Linked DNA regions of Homo sapiens: region 2 is linked to region 1. The links come from fine-mapping of genetic effects on gene expression. A gene starts in region 1. The other region holds a variant in brackets. All regions are shown on one strand. Distances are between the middles of the regions.

The links.
Region 2: its variant is fine-mapped to the expression of WNT5A in fibroblasts (GTEx, PIP above 0.99).

Annotation. Positions count from the first base shown.
Region 1 is chr3:55,484,397-55,489,765 of GRCh38, reverse strand. It overlaps WNT5A (Wnt family member 5A), which reads left to right and starts at 2,460. Exons shown (of 5, transcript NM_003392.7): 1 at 2,460-2,786. The coding sequence starts at 2,781. WNT5A-AS1 (WNT5A antisense RNA 1) reads right to left here and starts at 2,148. Exons shown (of 2, transcript NR_046656.1): 1 at 1,887-2,148; 2 at 1,458-1,776. RefSeq lists enhancers at 1-325, 326-836.
Region 2 is chr3:55,161,784-55,167,152 of GRCh38, reverse strand. The region is part of intron 2 of LOC124906243 (a long non-coding RNA gene); the gene reads left to right. Among named protein-coding and RNA genes, the nearest start is that of LINC02017, 14 kb to the left of the region's middle. The variant T/A (reference allele first, on the strand shown) is at 2,721.

The DNA of each region.
Region 1 (5,369 bases):
AGGAGAAGGTTAGAGGAATGGAGACTCAGGAGGTAAAGGGGAGATGTCCCAAGGGGAGCTTTGAGAACCTTGGATTCCCTCTCCTTAAGGCCGCACACGCCCTGGGGGAAAGAAAGCAAGTTGGTGGGAGGCGGGAGGTGCTAAGCAGGAGCATCTGTCTCTGGCACTTGGTGGGAAGTTCACACTGCCATCTTTGCGCGCCAGGAAGGAGGCCAGGGCTGGGGAAGGGTCCAGTCGGCTAGGAAAATTAAGGAATGGGAAGGGGCTGTGGAGGGTGGAACGGCATCGCTGGAGCCTGGGCCTGCGCCCTCTGGGGTGTGGGGGTGGAGGTGGGGGAGGACTGGAGGAACAAAACAAAACAGCCACCACACCAAAACACCTAGGCCACGGATTTTTCGCCTTAAGGTCAAGTGCATGCCAATGGACGGAGAAAATTGAATAGTGTGTGTGTGTGTGTGTGTGTGTGTGTGTGCGCGCGTGTGTGTGTCTTCACCTTTGACAGCTGGAGAATGCAGACGGCGGAAAATAACTATTACGCTCCAGTGTGAGGCACTGTTTGTGGGGTGGGGCCCTCGGCGTGCTGGAGGTAGCGGACACAAATCCACCAACCCTGCCCCTCCGGAGTCCCCAAAACCACGGGCATCTGGAAGCGTCTAGAAATTCCGGTGCCCGGAACCCGGTTTTGCCAAACTTCGCAATCTCCTCACCTGAGGGCACCCGCCAAGATCTCCGTGGCAGGACCACGCATCGCGCCTCATGCTCTGGGCCGGAGCCAGATGAGCAATCATGCATCCCACTACCCAAGTCCCTACTACTCTGGGGACTTTGCAGGAGGTGAGCGCCTAACCCTATCCATCAGCCCCAGTGCTTAAGTATCCTCCCCCAGAGGTAAGAATGAGGAGGTCCCCCATGAGGTTCCATGTCAAGGCAGCAGTCTCCGTGGAGCCCCAGTGGGAGCGGTCTGGGATACGCGGGCGAGCCAAGGGGTCCAGGCGGGGAAGTTGGGGTTCAGCCTCCCGCCGGTCGGTGGCTCTGGAAGGAGCGCAGACAACCAGGCGGCAGGCAGGCAGCGGCTGCGGAGTGGACCTCTCTCTTTCAGCAGATGCCGCGGGGGATGGGGAACTTAGAGAAGGGGAGACAAGGAGAGTGTACCCCGCCTCCCGGCACCCCAGCCCGTAGTACGGCTTTAAAATCCTGCAGAGTTTGTCATAGGCCGGCCTCACCACGCATGCGCATAGCAAAGTTGAGTTTTTTCTTTCTTCCCCCCCCTTCCCTCTCTCTTTCCAGCCGCCCCTAGTTCTGAAACTTTAAAGAACTTTTTTCTTTCTTTCTTTCTTTCTTTTTTTTTTTTTCTTCCTTCTGAGAACACCAGGGGAAAGAGGAGTCTGGAGAGAGGGAGGGAGAGAGTAAGGCAGTTGGCCAGAAGGGCTGGGGGGTGGGAGGGGGGGACGCGTCCCCGCGGTCGGTCAGTCTGTTTGCGGGGCACAGGATCGCGTGGAAATCTGCTGCGAGCTCCACGGAGCCGCCTCCGCCGCCCAGAGCCGGGGTCCGTGCGGCAGCTGCCCAGCGAGCCCTTCCGCCGCCGCCGTTGTGCCCGGGACCGCCCGCCTCCCGCCGGCCCGCTCTCCCGCCCCTCGGACCCGGGCGCCAAACGAGGAGGTGGGCAGCTTCGCCGGCCATGGACCGCCGGAGCTGAGTCGCCGCCGCGGAGCTCCGAGCTCTCGCCCTTCCCCAGCCTCGCGCCCGCGGTGCACTCGCTGCTCTTCGCCCTTCGCCCTGGAAAAACGGGGAAAAGAGAGATCAACCCGAAGAGAGAAAGAACGGGATACGTGGTGGGGGGGGGGAGCCCGCGTCTCCCCTGGGTTAGTCGCACCCCTCCAGCTCACCGCACAGCAATAAGTTCCGGGGCGACTTTCACCTATTTTGCTCCCCGTTTTTGCCGAACCCTAAAATGAAAGGACACAATTTGGGGCTGACTCTTGCAGCTCAGATGGCGACTTGTGCGTTTTCAGCGGCATCTCCCGGAGAAAAAGCCATGCGCGCCTGATTGTTCTGTGGCCCCAAAGCTGCAGCGGGGGTGTGTGTGTTGGGGTGTGTGTCTGTGTGTGTACAGAGACGTCCACACTAACTCGCGGCTGCAGGATCAGCGTCTGGAAGCAGACGTTTCGGCTACAGACCCAGAGAGGAGGAGCTGGAGATCAGGAGGCGTGAGCCGCCAAGAGTTTGCAGAATCTGTGGTGTGAATGAACTGGGGGCACCTGGGCGCACAGATCGCCCCCCTTCCCCCGCCCCGGGCCACAGTTGAGTAGTGGTACATTTTTTTCACCCTCTTGTGAAGAATTTCTTTTTATTATTATTTGTCGTAAGGTCTTTTGCACAATCACGCCCACATTTGGGGTTGGAAAGCCCTAATTACCGCCGTCGCTGATGGACGTTGGAAACGGAGCGCCTCTCCGTGGAACAGTTGCCTGCGCGCCCTCGCCGGACCGGCGGCTCCCTAGTTGCGCCCCGACCAGGCCCTGCCCTTGCTGCCGGCTCGCGCGCGTCCGCGCCCCCTCCATTCCTGGGCGCATCCCAGCTCTGCCCCAACTCGGGAGTCCAGGCCCGGGCGCCAGTGCCCGCTTCAGCTCCGGTTCACTGCGCCCGCCGGACGCGCGCCGGAGGACTCCGCAGCCCTGCTCCTGACCGTCCCCCCAGGCTTAACCCGGTCGCTCCGCTCGGATTCCTCGGCTGCGCTCGCTCGGGTGGCGACTTCCTCCCCGCGCCCCCTCCCCCTCGCCATGAAGGTAGGTGTTCAGTGCGCTGCCACTTTTTTTCTTTACTTCCCCCCACCCCCTGTTGGAAGTTAACTGAGTTCCCTTCGCCTCTTCCTATCCCTCCATTTCCCCAACCGCCTGAAGAAGCTGGAACTCCAGCGTCGCTGGCAGGAACCCCTACCCCTTCGCCCTCCACGCCGGGCGCACTGCCTCAGTGTCCCAGGAGATCACTTCTGGTCGCACCACCCGTTCTGCAAACAATTTTGATTTTTGAGAAAAAGTGGGGAAGAGCGATAGTAGACAAACTGAGTGCGGTTCACTGACGACTTTCCTTTTGCTCTGAGAACATCGAGTGTAATTTACTATGTATATTTCAGTAACAGGATAATGATTCAATTCAACAAATATTTACCAAGCGCCCACTGCGCGGGCACCGGGACGGTGTGTGGCCGGGGCTCGGGATGGGGAAAGGGACTCCTTGGTTGAGAGAACCCGCAGAGGAACTAGGGGCCAACTACTCCAGAGCGGCGTACACCTTCCCCGACACCCCCCCGCACCGACGGAGGCCAGATTGTAGGCTTGCCTTGGCCGAGTAACTCGAGCGCTTCAGGCCCCTTTGCCTTTAAGAGTGCCTGGCGGGGGGCCAGCGCGCACCCCGGCGCGGGGAGCGGGGTCGCGTTATTAGCATTATTAGCCGCCACTGGGTGAGCTCAGGCACTTTGCAGCAGTGGTGGGGGCGGGGAGTTGTGGTGGTAGTGGCTGTAATCCCGTACTCCGGGACAGCGCTCCCCGGCCCCCTGAGCGGAGTCCGCCTTGTCCTTTAGAAAACACTTGGGCCTCCGCTTTGGGAGAGCAGGCGGGGGCCAGTTTGCGAACTCTTGTTTGTTTTAATTGTCAGTTGTATGTTAAAGCCGAATCACACACTCCGAGGGTCACTGAGAGTTCACTTTTACGAAAAGTTAACGTTTCTTCCTGCAACATAAGTTTTTATTTTCTAAACAATTTTTCTTATCTGTCCTCCAAGCTTCGATTCCTATTTCCATTTTTCTGGTCTTTCCCATTTTAAGTTTCTTAGAAAATAAGGTTAGAATTGAAATTAAGATGTTTCCTGGAAGCAAATAACCCCTCTTCCCCCCAAAAAGTTAAAAAAAACAACAACAAAAAACTTCAAGTCTGGAGACCCCACGGCCCTGTTTGACTTTCTAATCCCTGTCTGGTATCGAGGCCCCTTCTCCTCTCTCGCCTCTCTTTTCTCTCTTCTCTCTTTAAATGGGTAATTCGCTGTTTGGAAGTAACTTGGGCCTTGCGGTGAGGTCGCACCTCCTCAGCCCCTGCCCTCCCCCCAGCCACCTTCGCACATTCACTGCCGAACCAGCCAGATTTAGTTTCTAGACAGACTCTGCCAGGGGAGTTTCGAGGGGGCAATGCGGAGAGTGCGCAGCGAACCGCGGGCCGACAAATGTGTGTGTGTCCGAGTGTGTGGATCCTTGGCTGCGTGTGTGTGCGTGTGTGTTTGTGTGTGTAGGGGAGTTGTTCTCGGGTCCAGGACGTAGTAGCCTTCGTCTCCTCCACCCCCCGACCCTCTCAACGGAAGACCCTCCCCAGGAGGCCCGGCCCAAGAGTCCCCTGTCTTCTCCTCCCCTCCCCCGTGCGCTCCGGTGCTCAAGGGGTTAGCACTATGCGCGCAGAACTCGGAGCCATCCCCGCGGCCTTTTCTTCCCCGCGGTGCGGTGCCGGCTGCCCCCTGTTGGCCGCCTTGAGGTAGGACTCCTGCGAGCCTCGGTTCCTTGGGGCGGGCGGGCGGGCAGCTGCTCCCCTCTCCCTCCCACCCCTGCTCCCTTCATCCCTCCCGACCACCAGACCCCACTCTCCCAGCAGGGGCCCTCGGAGGCCCCCAGAGGACCAGTTTCGCTGCGCCGCCGGCCGCTGCAATACGGAAGGGGCCACGGGTCCAGCCCAGCAAATGGGACTCGGCCAGCTGGACACAGGGTTGGTACCTCTTCTTCTGGGCTTGGGAAGGAGAGTGTCGCCCTAGGAGGCCTCGGGTCTGGCCTCAGCTGCCTCCCAACTCTCTATGATCGAGAACAAGTGTTGCTTTCCCGCTTTTCGCCTCACTTTAATCGTCTATTAAAAAGTGGGAGAGAAACTACCTTTAAAGAGTGGGGGTTGGACTATCATTTCATTTTCTTCCTCTGTCCAAGGACTCTGCTCCACCTCTGGACAAAGTTGATCCTCTGCCGAGAGGGCTAGACATCCTATGTGAGAAGGTGTGAGTGGTGTGTGTGTGTGTGTGTGTGTGTGTGTGTGTGTGTGTGTGTGTGTGTATCCTGGGGCCTGGAAAGCCCAGTCTAAGGGATGGACGAGGGGGCAGGAAACAGAGGAGAACCAGGCCAGACCGTTCTTCCCCTGGGGCCTCTCTATACCCGAACCTGGAACCTGCTGTCAGTGTTGAGGCCTGGGCGGCTCTCTTTTGTCATACTGATTCTGGCTCAAGGTGTAACCTCCGCCTTCTCTATCTGGCAATTCCCTCCTCCCCTACCCCGCTCCGCGCGCGCCAACACACATATTGCTGTGGACACAACCCTTGCGCCCAGGCGTGAGGCTTAGGGAGTA
Region 2 (5,369 bases), 320 kb after region 1:
CACCACTCTTTTTTTCTTTTTTCTTTTTTTTCCAGTGCACAAACCACTCAGCCATATGCAGCACTCTGCAGGCATGAAGACTCAGAGGCAAAAAAACAAGAAGTGAAAAACTCCATTTGGCTAGAGTGGAGGCTTTCTGAAGCAGATATAAAAGTCTAAGACTTGTGCTGTCCAATATAATAGCCCCTTACCACACGTGGCTATTTAAATTTCAATGAATTAAAATTCAATACAATTGAAATATCTGTTCGTCAATTATATTATCTGCTTTTTATAGCTACCTGGACTTGATAGCTGCCAGAGTGGAAAGCACAGATAGAAAACATTTCCATTGTTGTGGAGAGTTCTATTGGACAGCTCTGGTCCAGAAAGCAAGGTGGAGCCATTGACTGTAAAAAAATTGCTCACCCTTTATGCATGCCATGGGCTATGAGGAGTCATGAAAGGGTTTTAAGCAGGGAAGTGGTGTGAAAGAAGTATAGTGCTAAGAGAAGTAATAATATCGTTTATTGAGGGATAAGTGTGTTAGGTACCTCACAAGCATGATTGCATTTAAGGCAGGTAGTATCATATCCCCATTGTACAGACAAGGAAATTGTGGCACAGTGAGGTTAAATAACTCATACAGCTCCAGGTCTGTCTGATCCCAAAAGGTTCTACCTTATACCATGCTCCTAGCCTGTACTCTAATCAACATGATGATGGGAGTGTATTATTCAAAAAAGCAGAGCTCAAGTTCAGAGAGGCCCGTTTGGCAGCCCTAGTAGGCATGAAATAATAATGACTTCAACTAGGGGGTCAAGAGCTCCCTTTGTAGCAAGCTTCAGAGGTTTCTTGTTCTTTGTTCTTGGCCTGTAGTTTCCTCCCTTCCTCCCCAACCATTAATCGCAATCGCTTTCATTTTCTTTGGAATCATCTTTGCTTATTCTTTTGCTCCTCTTGTTGGTGTTTCCAGAGAAAATTGTGTTTGCATTAGGTTTTATCCTAATAAATTTTTATCCCTGGAAGTACGTCTCCTGCCTCATCCTGCTGTTAGGCCTCTTCCTAGAGATCCCAGGACACAGCTGGAGAGCTTGTGTGGGCCCCACCATGAGCCAAGCCCACAAATCCCATCTGGAAATGTGCGTGGCAGAAGTTTCCCTCTCCTTCTAGTTTTCCTGGTGAATGGAAATGCACCAGTGTGTCCCATTTCCTGCTGGGACATGGGGCCTTTTTGTTTCTTTGGCCTCCTGGTGTTGAAGGTAAACTCCCCTGGGGAGTACTTGCAGCTTCATTGCATGGTCCAGCAAACTTTAGTTTGTGACTATTTCAGCTTTAGGTGAAGTCTGTCAAGCAATGGAGGTGGATTGGCCTTCCCTGGGTCTTATAAAGAGAATTGGTTTCTAGAATTTGGTTTTTTAGAGTATGGACAAGCAGATCCCCATTACTCTCCCCATCACCCCCGAGGAAGTCTATGAGAGGAACCCTTGAATGCTGATCTATGTGTGACAGCTGGGGAAATTGAGGCATCAAAGGAGGAGAGAATTCCACATGCATCAAAATTAAAGAACTAGAGAGAAAACCATGACATCCAGGTTGCCTGGTCATGCTTTAACCACAAACCGCACTCGCCTATTTAGTTACAACAAACACAAAAGAGATAAACATAGATGTAAGTTAGTCTAAACACCAAATTTTAGAAGTTTTTCCTCTGATGTCTAGTCAGTCATCCTGACCTTTATTGGAGGATAAACCAACTTGCAACAGCTGTGGATAATTATTTACTGTAAGTCAGAGACCAAAGGGCTTGGATAATGAAGTGAATTCGGCATTAGAAGGAGAGAGATGTGCTTTAGCACCAGAAAGTTACCTTTTAAGTTGATTCCTGAATTTCAATGATCAAGAGGTACCAAATTCACTATCTAAGAGATGCTGGAAAAGCGCAGGATGTGCTGAGCAGTGGACTTTGTTCACATGTGAGGGGTTTTACAAAAATGTACAGCCACACCTGGCCCTTCCTCAGCCTGGAATCATCCAAGAAGATACTTTGTGCAGATGCTACTGAGATGACACATCCCTTGCTGTCCATAAAAGTGATCTACAGCTGGCTGTGGTGTTACCCAGCCATCTTGGCTACTCAATAAGAAACAGATTTGGATTCCCTCACTCAGGCTGTCAGATTTTACAGCTGTCTGAGGGCCTATGGCAGTGTGGCCTCTCAGCAAGACACTGCTGAAGTGGGGCTCAAACATTTGGCAGTCAAGAGAGGGACAAAACCTTTGTATAATTTGGGAGTGAGTTCAAAGCCAATAACATTTACACTCCAGGCCAAGAAAGCATTTTAAAGCCAGCAAGGTGCCTCTAAGCCAATAAGGTGTTATTACCTTTAAGCACATCTCTTCTGCCCTTTGATAATAAGCGTTGTTTTAAAGTATTTGAAAATACCATTCACAATTTAGAACAGGATATATCACCTCCACACTTTGAACACCCAAAAAGAAAAAGAAGCCTTGATTGATGTTTATGCACTTCCATTATGGACAATCCTCCAAACACAACACAAGACATACACACACATGCACACTTCCTCATCCTCACCTGTGCTGCAAAATAATGGAATCTGGCCACCCCACATGTGGCAAGAGGAGCAGTGAGGCCAATCAAGTTCCTCTCCAGGAGCCCCATTCCTAAAGGCCAGCCAGTACAGGGAAAAATTTGTTGCAAGTGTTCCCATGCCTTGC[T/A]TAAGGTCCAGCCCCCAGGATGCTTTCCAGAGCAAGACCTCTGCTGAGAACTCTGTGTTCTAGAATTTTAATTAAACAGACCACAAAACCCACTTGCTCCCAAGTTAAATTCTAAGTCTAAACTTGAGAACAACAGAAAGTAGGGAAATGTGATCATTGGCCTGGGCAAAATGGTTGAGCACAGAATAGAGACAGTGTAAGGCAAAAACTAAGAGTACAGAGTCTAGAGCTAGGCAGCTTAGGCTCAAATCCTGGTTCTGCTGGTCATACTCCCTGGCTGTATGACCTTGGGCCCATTACTTATCTTATGAGGTTAAGTGAATCCCTGTAACTTGGAATCATGACTCAGAACTGGGGGTAACCTTGAAGACCCTCTTGTTCAACCATTATCCCATTAGACTCAGCCATGATGATGAATGAGGAGACCCAAGAATTCCCACTTCCCAGCCCTTCACCATCAGAGTGGACCATGAGGGTGTGCCAGTGGCAGAAGAAGAGGAAGGCAGGAGGTCTCCCGAATCTTTTGCCAAATACCTTAGCCTAAACTGGAAAATATCTTAGGGTTACTGGATGGACAACAGAGCTGAAAGCTCTATGCGAACCTTAGGAGGCCGATGGACAGCTAAGAAACTGCTTCTTATCCGTCTCTCTCCTTCCAGGATTCAGTCTCTGGTTTCTGGAGTGAGAACTACCATGCTACGTTCCATTGTTTCCTGTCTGAAGCATGTAGTTCACCATCGAATACATAGTCCTTTTCCAGCTGTCCTACTTGTCCAGTCTCAACTCCCATCCCACACATCCCCTCTGTCTGACCACACTGACCATCTGCTGCCTAACACGTCACACATATGCATGACTCCAGGCCTAGACATGGTTTTCCCTCTACTTGCAATGTTCTTCCCCCTTTTCAAGTCCCTACTCATTCTTCAGGATTAAGACCAATGTTACCTCTTCTGTAAGGTTTTCCTAGACAGGATCACTAATTCTAATCATAGAGAAGTCAAGTACTGCACTGAACCCTTTTTATGATTACCTCATTCATTCACTGAATCCTCACTACAATCCAATGAAATAGATTCTACTATAATCCCCATTTTAAGATGAGGAAACCAAGGCTCACAGGAGTTAAGTAAAGCCCAAGGTTACACAGCTAGTTAGGGAGAGAGCCAGTTTCAAGCCCAGCTCTAATTATTCTAGAAGCAAATTCTTCCCCCATGGGTCTCCCAGTGAACTTTATTGACTCTCCCAGTGAACTTTACTTATACTTTGGTTACATCATTTTCCCAGTTTAACTTTCTCTCCCCTACAAGATTAAAAATCAAGTTGGATGTTCGATTTATTTTTATCTCTAATACTTAGCTCACTGCTTGGCCCACAGTAGATACTTGACATAAATGTGAAAAAATGTGTTAATGGAGAAATGAATGAATAGATGAAAGGATAGAAGAGTAGAAGGAAAGAAGGAAGGAAGGAAGGAAGGAAGGAAGAAAGGAAGGAAGGGAGGGAGGGAAGGAATCAAGGAATAAAAATATTTGACTTCCTCAGAGGTACATATTATAAAACAAAGTAGCCTTTTCCAAGTACATCAAACATTATGTTCCATAGAGAAGAATTTTAATGCTGCCTGAAAAAATGTGACTAGATATTCAATACATATTTTATATTGACCCTGGGCCTTATTAATGGCAGGAAATTCAAAGGAAGTCAAGTCTATACTGTATGCACCTACTGCCAGAAATGAGGAGCCTACAAATGTTGGACAAAGCAAAAAACATCTGGGCCTGGCCATGACCTTGAGGAATGGAGATATTATGCTCTCTGAGCTTAGTCTTTTGGCTTGGAATAAAACCAAAACTAAAACCAAAAACCCCACCTCTATGTTCTTCTCATGATTTGAATGCCTTTCCCTTTGCTATGTCCTCCCTGGGAGAAGTCTCATCAACAGACTTCAAACAGGTAATCTTGCAGCTGCTACACATTCAAGTGTTTAGACTACATCTAAACTTGCTTTTTTATAACAACTTGCTTATTAGGGATGCATAAATAGATCTAGAGAAAATGAGAACAGATCTTATCTTTGGGTAAAAATATGTAAGGCACAAAACAGACTCATTAGAGAAGGTTCAGAAGTCAGGGCCTGTGGCTCAGAGTTCAAATTGGCCTGGCCAGAGCAAGCCTCCTCTCAGAACAGATGAGTCAGTGTGGTTATCACTCAGTGTTTTCAAAGCATAGAGGATGCAATCTGAGAGGCAAACGTGAGTTTCCAGATAGGGAGAGAGGAAGAATCAGGATTATGAGTGACATGTTAAAATATAATGTCGTGGTCTGCAAGGCCTAAATGCTTTGGGCAATGTTGTGTCTGGAATTTCTGTGGGACAAACCGTGTCCAGCTGTGAAGTCATTCCTAGTGGGTTTGCGACAAGAGTGTAACTCAGGGCCTTGCCTTGGTGTACCCTAAATGTGGAGAGGCTGACCGCTTGCCTAATTGAAGGCAGATGGGAGGTTGCAAAGCTGGGTAAAGAAGAAGCTTTCTGACATCTGTCTTTGACCCAAAAGGGGATAAACTCAGGCCACGTTTTAAAAAGACCCCCTGAATGATTTACATTTACCAATTCCTATAGATATCTCAGCAAAGATTTTGCTTCAGTG